Homo sapiens: one gene and its partner. The protein of the gene in region 2 purifies or fractionates together with the protein of the main gene of each other region. This does not show direct contact. Each region holds a gene or a part of one and is shown on either strand. Other genes may lie near its edges.

What was found.
Region 1: the proteins of SPIRE1 (region 2) and NPHP4 purify together in Homo sapiens (co-immunoprecipitation; one study listed by IntAct). This does not show direct contact.

The regions. Positions count from the first base shown.
Region 1 is NC_000001.11:5,989,339-5,993,837, forward strand, and holds the start of NPHP4 (nephrocystin-4), read right to left. Parts: upstream 3,088-4,499; 5' UTR 2,906-3,087; intron 2,587-2,905; exon of another isoform or gene 2,003-2,586; intron 1,634-2,002; exon of another isoform or gene 1,498-1,633; intron 1,490-1,497; exon of another isoform or gene 1-1,489. UniProt on the Homo sapiens protein: Involved in the organization of apical junctions; the function is proposed to implicate a NPHP1-4-8 module. Does not seem to be strictly required for ciliogenesis. Required for building functional cilia.
Region 2 is NC_000018.10:12,647,908-12,651,711, forward strand, and holds part of SPIRE1 (protein spire homolog 1), read right to left. Parts: intron 1-3,804.

The DNA of each region.
Region 1 (4,499 bases), on a different chromosome or scaffold from region 2:
CACGACTTATAAGCAGAAGACACCTGACCAATACCAGCTCAAGGGCCATCTCCCCCAGGAGGGCTTCCCAGGTGCTCCCAGGGTCCAGGCCCCAGGCTCACATGGCCCCTGTGCTTCCCTTGGTCACATCATTCGTCACCTATCTTGTGTTGAATTGCTCGCTGGCCAAGTTCTTGAAGAAAGAAGCCTCATTCCTCCTGTGTTCTTGGTACCGTCACAACTCAGTAAATGGTCACGGAACCAAACAGAAGCTTTAGCAAAGCTACCCTCAAGCTTTTCTTTCCCACTGATGTTTTATAACATTCAGAAATGTATTCACACACAATGCAGGCCGTGATGGCCCCAGGTGGGGATTTCAGAGAGGAAGTCTCTCCTGACGCAGATGCCCATGCTCCTCACCTGCCCCAGATTTCTGACCCGGTGCCTCCTGCCCTCTCCCTGGGTGTCTGCAGGACTCAGTGCCACACTTGGCCCAAGGACACTGCTGAAGGACGTGCATACGCCAGTCGACCCTCACAGGGAGCATGAAGCATGCCGGCCCCCTGCTGTACTAGGAGGGCAGACACTAGGCGGAAGGGCATCCATTCCGAAAGCACCTGCCACCCACACGGAAGTCCTGAGGCTCGGGATGTGGAGGCAGGGCAGTCCTAGTCTGAGGGGCCACGGAGGCCGAGGTGACACCTGAGACTCTGCAGGTGGGAGCCCAAGCGCCCGCAGCAGCTCTCACTGCCATCCCAGCACCTCACAAACCTCTCCGGGTGCCCTTCCACCTGCTCCTTGCTCCTTTCCACCTCTGCTCTGGCCTCTAGGAGTCAAACCAAATGCTCCCTCCTCAGAGCGAGAGCCCCATCCCCCACCTCCGGCTGCTCCCACACAGGGCAGGTGACAGAAGAGCCACCACGCTTCACCAGGGCTGTGCTGTAGTCCTGCGAGACTGTGAGCTCCATGACACCAGGCTGGGTCTTCAGCAAAAGTCTTTTAAGGATGAAATACAAATGCCCTGGAGGAAGTGCAGAGGGGCCTTTGGGGCCAAATCAACAATAAAAGAGAAAATCGAGAAGGCTCCAGGTCTTGAACCCAAGAAAAGGGTACAGTGGGCTCTCCAGGGGAAAAAAAAAAAGAAGAAGAAGAAAATACACCCACTTTTAATGAGCCCCTGATGCAAGACAGGAACTCACATTCTATGGTTACTATTCCAACAACTCTGCCAAATGAGAATCATCATTATCGCCATCTTACAGATGAGAACACTGAGACTCAGAAAGGATAAACAGCCAATCCAAGGTCACACAGCTAGCTATTATAACTAGCTATTATAATAGTATTATAGATATAATACTGTAAGCTATTATAACTACCTCCCACTACCTCAATCAAGGAGGCCAGGAGAGGCCAAGGGAGAAGAGAGGCCCAGAGGGAAAAAGTAAGAGCACCAAAGGAACCCAGGGCTAATGCTGTCTCCTCTTTAACTTCAGGACAGATTCGCAGCCTCCCCACCTGTTTCCAACCTCCAAAATGAGAGCTGTGAAATCTCCTTGAGATCTCTGCTTCTGCTGATCTATTCAGCAACTATTTCCCGAGCACTTGTGTTCCAGTGCATAAGAAGGCTGTCAAATGTGCTGTCTTCAAGCATCTAGAAAGCCAGTGGGGGAGAAAGACAAGAAAGTGACTGTGAGCAGCAACAGGCCCCCGGGAGGGTGCAGAGGTGAGCAGGGCTGAAGGAAGATGCAGGGGGTGGGAGGCGCTGTCAGGGTCCGGGAAGCCTCCTTCCCGGAATGGAAAATGTGTAATGCCTGAGACCCAGATGCCTTGGGGAGCTTTTGGGGAAGCAGAGGTCTGATTAAGCACTGCCTGGAATTCCCTCATTCATGAGCATTCTTTCAGCACCTACCCTGCGCCCGGGAGAAACGGTCTTGAACACAGCAGACAAGCTCGCTACCCCCATAGAATGTAAAGAAACGGGGCACAAATTAGCATACAAAAAGACACAAGTGTGACCTACGGAAACTGCACAGAGGAGGTGCAACGAACGGAGCCCTGGGTTAGGACCGGGAGGCGCTGCCCACCATCAACAGAAATACTCCTCCTTTTGCCAACTACACACGCGAGAGGCTGGATTTCCTTCACAGACGTCCACCAAAGCCACACATCGCGACACACGGAGGCAGAAAGCAGCGGTCTCCTAAGAAGTTAGACACGAGGAATCTCGGGCAGCGAGGTGCCTGCAAGCCCGGGGGCGGGCGGGAGCAGCCTGCACGCGTGGGGAAGGGCACGCGGGAGCGGGTGGCGCCTTCCGGGCCGGGTCGGCCGGGAGGTTCCAAGGCAGGAAAGGGGCGCAGAAGGCCGGGACGGCGCCGGGTACAAAGCCTCGCAGGGACGCCCGAAGGCCGCAGAGCCACCGCGGGGAACTGACAGCCGGAGCCGGAGCTGGAGCCGGGGGGCGGGGAGGAGGGGCGGAGGGGCGCGGCCAGGCGGGGTCCGCGGACTCCGGCCTGGGAAGGATGCGCGCGGACTAGGGCGCGGGGAGCCAAGGCCCAGAACATCGGTACCGCGCTCCCTTCAGCCGAGGGGCTGCAGAGAGGCCAGGGGGCAGGGGGCAGGGGGCAGGGGGCAGGGGGCAAAGGGCAAGGGCAGAAAGGAACCCACGTAGCCAAACGGCACCCAGCGGCCCCGACCCCAAGTGTCCCGACGAGGGGGGACGCCTGCGACTAACGCGGGGACAGCCCCCGCCGCGCGCCACCGCCGCACCCCAGGCACCGGGCCCCCACGCAGGGACGGCGTGGACCACCCTACCCCCGAACCCCGAGGCTCTGGCCAACACTGAGGCCCCCTGTGCCTCGAGGCCGCGTCCAACCTCCCCCGCGGCGCCGGCCCACATGGTTCCGCCCGCCGCGGGCCGCGTTACCTAGGAGACCGACCCGCCGCGGCCGCGCCGGAGGCCACGGAGCCCACGCTTTTCAGAGAGTCTCCACTCGACGGACCCAGAGGCCCGGCGGCCGGTGCTCAACGGAGCCACAAGCCTGAGGACCGAGGACTGGCCGAGGGGCGCGCCCCGTCCGCTGCCACCCGCGGGAGGAGCCTCGGAAGGCGGCGCACCGCGCCGCACACTCAGTCCAAGAACCCGCCTCGCGTCACTGTCGCCGTCAGGGCCGCGGAGCCAATCAGAGCCCAAGTCGAGGGCTGCGCTTTGCGAGCGCCAGCCAATCGGTGCGGCGGCGGGCCCATCCTGATTTGCATGTCCGACGACCCCTCAACCAATGGTAATGTGACTGGCGTGAACAATAGCCAATCAGAAGCTGGAAGAGGCGTGGCCCCGGGCGTCCCACGAGGTGAAGATGCTGCTGGCGGAACCTGCAGGAGCTAGCGGGATTCGGGGGCGCTAAAGTCGCAGGGGCAGGGCGGGAAGGAAGATCCGGCGCGGGGCACAGGATCCGGAGCTGGAGCCCCCAGGTGAGTACCGGGGAGACCCCGGCGGGGCGCGCTTTCCACCAAGCTGCTCCGGGACGGCGGCGGCGGGTATCCGCGAGGCCCGCGCTGCGGCAGGCGCCGCGGTCCCGTCTCCATCTCTTCTTCCCCGGCCCTGCGTCCCTGCCTCCGCCGCTGTCTCACCTCCTCTCCAGCCTCCTCACCTCCTTCTCCATCGTCTCCCTTCCCCCATCCCTTTCTGTCTTTCCTTCCCTGTCCTCCCGCCCGCCCGACCCTTCAGCTCGCATCCCTGACCCCTGCCCCTGCCGCCGTCCCTCTTCCCGGTGCACCTCTTCCCCATCTCTGCCCGCTCCGGTCCTAGCAGCCTCGCCCTCCCCTTTCCTCCATCCTCCTCTCATCCCCTCTCCCGGCCTCTGCGCAGCCCCACCGGGGCGCTGCTGTTCCCGGTCCTCCCCATCTCTCCTCCTGATCGCTTCTCAAGGCTCATCCGTCGTTCTCGCTGCCTGTCCCTGTGTCGCTCCGGTCCCTTTCCCCACCCTCCCATTCTGCCCCCAGCCCCTCCGACCTCTCCCCGCGGGCACGCTCTCACCACCTTACCCTGCTCCCCAAGACTGTGACCCTGCTTCCTGCACCAGTTCCTCGGGCTGTTTACAGCACACACACCGCCACTTCTGACCCTGAGCCCCTACTCCTATCTTAAGCTTCTCCCTCCTGCCAGGCCTTGGCACAAAGCACTTCCGCACCTCCCTACCTGCTGCTGCTCCCAGGATGCAAAGACCCCACTGCTGCACCGCGTCCTGCGGCATTAGCAGCAGCCGGGGTACCTGCCCACCTTCCCACCCCGCCAACCAGCCGCATCCTGGTGTCCCTCCTCCTGGCATTTGTCCTGGGGGCTCTTACAGGGACTGTGCTTTGCCCGCAGCATCCCGGGGTGCTCCAGGTGGAAAGCCCCTTAGCACCTTTCCTCCCTGGCCACCGTCTCCTTCCCTCCCCACCCCCACTTTCCTGCTCAGCCTCACTTTGTGATTCAGCATTTTTGGGGTTGGTAACTTTCTTGCTTCCTGTCGTGATAG
Region 2 (3,804 bases):
AAACATCTTGCAGTGCCAGAAAGCAAGGACGTGCTCCACCAGACAGAAGGAGGGCTGCATATCAAAGGAACCCAGGAGCCAAGCCTAAGGAGCAATCAATGGCCACAGCGGGAACAATCTGAGCAACAAAACAACCAAAGTACAAAATACATGTCAATCCAGACTGATATAAACAAATGATTGAATATATAAGTAAATGGAGGAGAAGGCACAAATCTTCTTCACAGAATTCAAAATAACTCTAAGAAGATATTCACGTCTCCAGGAGGTGGTTTAATTACCTGGCCCTATCCTTGAACGCAGGCTGGAATTAATGACTCCTTTCTAAAGAACAACATATTAAAAAAAGGTAAAAATAGTAACTTTTTAGTGGAGAAACCTGACAACACTGTCTTAATCAAGTGTCCAGGTTATCGTAGCCAGTGATGTCACATGGTTATCATGTGCCCCAACATGATGTGATCAGGGGGAGCCCTTCACCTCGCTGGTATTCTTCCCCCAAAACTATAACCCAGTCTAGCCATAAAAATACCAGGCAAGTCCAAATGGAGGGACATTTTACAAAATAGCTGACCAGTACTTGCCAAGACTGTCAAGATCATGATAAACTGTCACAGACCAGAAGAAACTAAGGAGATATGATGACTAAATGCAATATGGTATCTCGAATGGGATTTCTGCAATAGAAAAAGGACACTAAGGCCAAGCACAGTGGCTCACGCCTGTAATCCCAGCACTTTGGGAGGCCGAGGCGGACAGATCACCTGAGGTCAGGAGTTTGAGACCAGCCTGACCAACATGGAGAAACTCCGTCTCTACTAAAAATACAAAATTACCCAGGTGTGGTGGCAGGTGCCTGTAAATCCCAGCTACTCGGGAGGCTGAGGCAGGAGAATCCCTTGAACCCAGGAGGTAGAGGTTATGGTGAGCCAAGATCGCGCCATTGCACTCCAGCCTGGACAAGAAGAGCGAAACTCCGTCTCAAAAAAAAAAAAAAAAAAAAAGAAAAAGGACATTAATAGAAAAACTGGGGAAACCCAAATGAAGTCTGGAGTTTAGTTAATAGCAATGCATCAATGTTGTTTTTTCAGTTTTGACAAATATACCACAAGAATATAAAATGTTAACATTTAGGGGAACTGGGTGAGGGGCAAATAAGAATTATCTGCATTCTCTTTTCAACTTTTCTGTAAATCTAAAATTATCCCAAAATAAAAAGTTTGGTCAGGCACAGTGGCTCGCACCTGCAATTTCAGCACTTTGTGAGACTGAGGCAGGTGGATCATTTGAGGTCAGGAGTTCAAGAGCAGTCTGGGCAACATTTTTCTCCACTAAAAAATAAAAATAAAAAATTAGCCAGAAGTGGCAGCACACACCTGTGGTCCCAGCTACATGGGAGGCTGAGGTAGGAAGACTGCTTGAATCCAGGAGCCGGGGGCTGCAGCGAGCTATGATCATACTACTGCACTCCAGCCTGAGCAAGAGAGAAAGACCCTGTCTCTTAAAAAAAAATTTTTTTGACTAAAAATTCCCACTACATTTGGTAACTCAATATTTCCTTCATAGTTTTAAACAAATATCTGAAAGAAGTTATTTTCCTTTTTTCTACTTAGCCAACAAGAAGTAAAAGGGAAATACATACAGCTCTAATGACACTGTTATGAAAGCAGGATGAGAACTGCTGTTATTTTATAGGACCAATGATACAGGAGAGTGAATCTGACCTTCCATATATAACAAGCAGAGTGCAACTCATCATCTCTTATCAACATATAGTCCTTGGTAGCTCAATGATTTTTTTCTTCTAAAGTTTAGTCAAAACTCTTAGTGAGGCCAATGGTTTCCTAAGAGTCCTAACTTACTTGAGGACTAATATCTGTAGATGACTAAATTCTTTCTACTGTTTCCCTCTGCAAAAGTAGAAACACAGATACAAAACCACAAATACATTATTCCAAAATTTCTCCCCAAAACTCTTGTGACCCCTCTCTTATAACCCAACACACGTAGAAATATATTGCATGGTAAATTGGAACCAAAAGTGACAGTAGGTCAGGCTTGGTGGCTCACGCCTGTAATCCCAGCACTTTGGGAGACCAAGGCAGGCAGATACTTGAGGCCCAGAGTTTGAGACCAGCATGATCAATATGGAAAAACCCTGTCTCTACTAAAAATACAAAAATTAGCCAGGCGCAGCGGCATGTGCATGTAATCCCAGCTATTTGGGAGGCTGAGGTGCGAGAATTGCTTGAACCTGGGAGGCGAAGGTTGCAGTGACCCGAGCTCGTGCCACTGCACTCCAGCCTGGGCAACAGACTAAGACTCTGTCTCAAAAAAAATAAATAAACAAATAAATAAAAGTGACAGCAGGCCAGGCATGGTGGCTCATGCCTGCAATTCCAGCACTTTGGTAGGCCAACGTGGGCAAATCACTTGAGCCCAGAAGTTCCAAACAAAACTAGGCAACATGGCAAAATCTCTGTCTCTAAAAAACGATATAAAAATTACCCAGGCATGGGCCAGGTGGTAGTGGTGGCTCACATCTATAATCCCAGCACTTTGGGAGGCCGAGGTGGGTGGATCATGAGGTCAGGAGTTCGAGACCATCCTGGCTAATATGGTGAAACCCCGTCTCTACTAAAAATACAAAAAATTAGCTGGGCGTGATGGCACGTGCCTGTAGTCCCAGCTACTCGGGAGGCTGAGGCAGGAGAATCGCTTGAACCCGGGAGGCAGAGGTTGCAGTAAGCCAAGATCACGCCGCTGCACTCCAGCCTGGTGACAGAGCAAGACTCCATCTCAGGAAAAAAAAAAAAAAAAAATTACCCAGGCATGGTGACACATGCCTGTAGTCCCAGCTACTCGGGAGGCTGAGGTGGGAGGATTGCTTGAATCTGGGAGGTCAAAGCTGCAGTGAGCCGATCAAACCACTGCACTACAGCCTGGGTGACAAAGCGAGACCCTGTCTCAAAAAAAAAAAAAAAAAAAGTGATAGCAATCTTATCCAATTACAGCTAAAATCTTAATTTTGCAAATGAACATCTAAACTTACTGTTAAGGCTCCTCCCACTCACTTAGAAGGGGCCTGTGTAAATGAAGGGACTTGAAGTTTAAGCTGCATTAGATTCATGGTAAATTCACCACTGTGTTTCTGTTTTATTTTCTCTTCTTTAATGACTAGAACTATTTGCCCTTACATCACCCATGTAAAACTAGAACACTACTTGTACATAGTAGGAACTCAAAGCATATTTGTTAGATTGAATTAACCTGACATATTTGAACTTATTATTCAAAGAGAACAATTTTTATCTATTACTGTAACTGATAAGGCATTTCACCAATCTCTAATTCTACCATTCACCCCCACTACCTACTCTGGAAACCTACACATATACTTCATATATTCCTTTCCTTTAATGATCAGGATGGGAACACAAGAAATACAGAAAGAGCAGACCAAAAAAAATGTTTTTAAACATTTTTTTGCTGGGTGCGGTGGCTCACGCCTGTAATCCCAGCACTTTGGGAGGCTGAGGTGGGTGGATCACAAGGTCAGGAGATGTAGACCATTCTGGACAACATGGTGAAACCCGTGTCTACTAAAAATACAAAAATTAGCCGAGCATGGTGGCGGGCGCCTGTAGTCCCAGCTACTCAGGAGGCTGAGGCAGGAGAATCGCTTGAACCCAGGAAGCGGAGGCTGCAGTGAGCCGAGATCACGCCACTGCCTCCAGCCTGAGCAACAGAGCGAGACTCCATCTCAAAAAAACAAAAACAAAAAAAACATATTTTTTCACTATT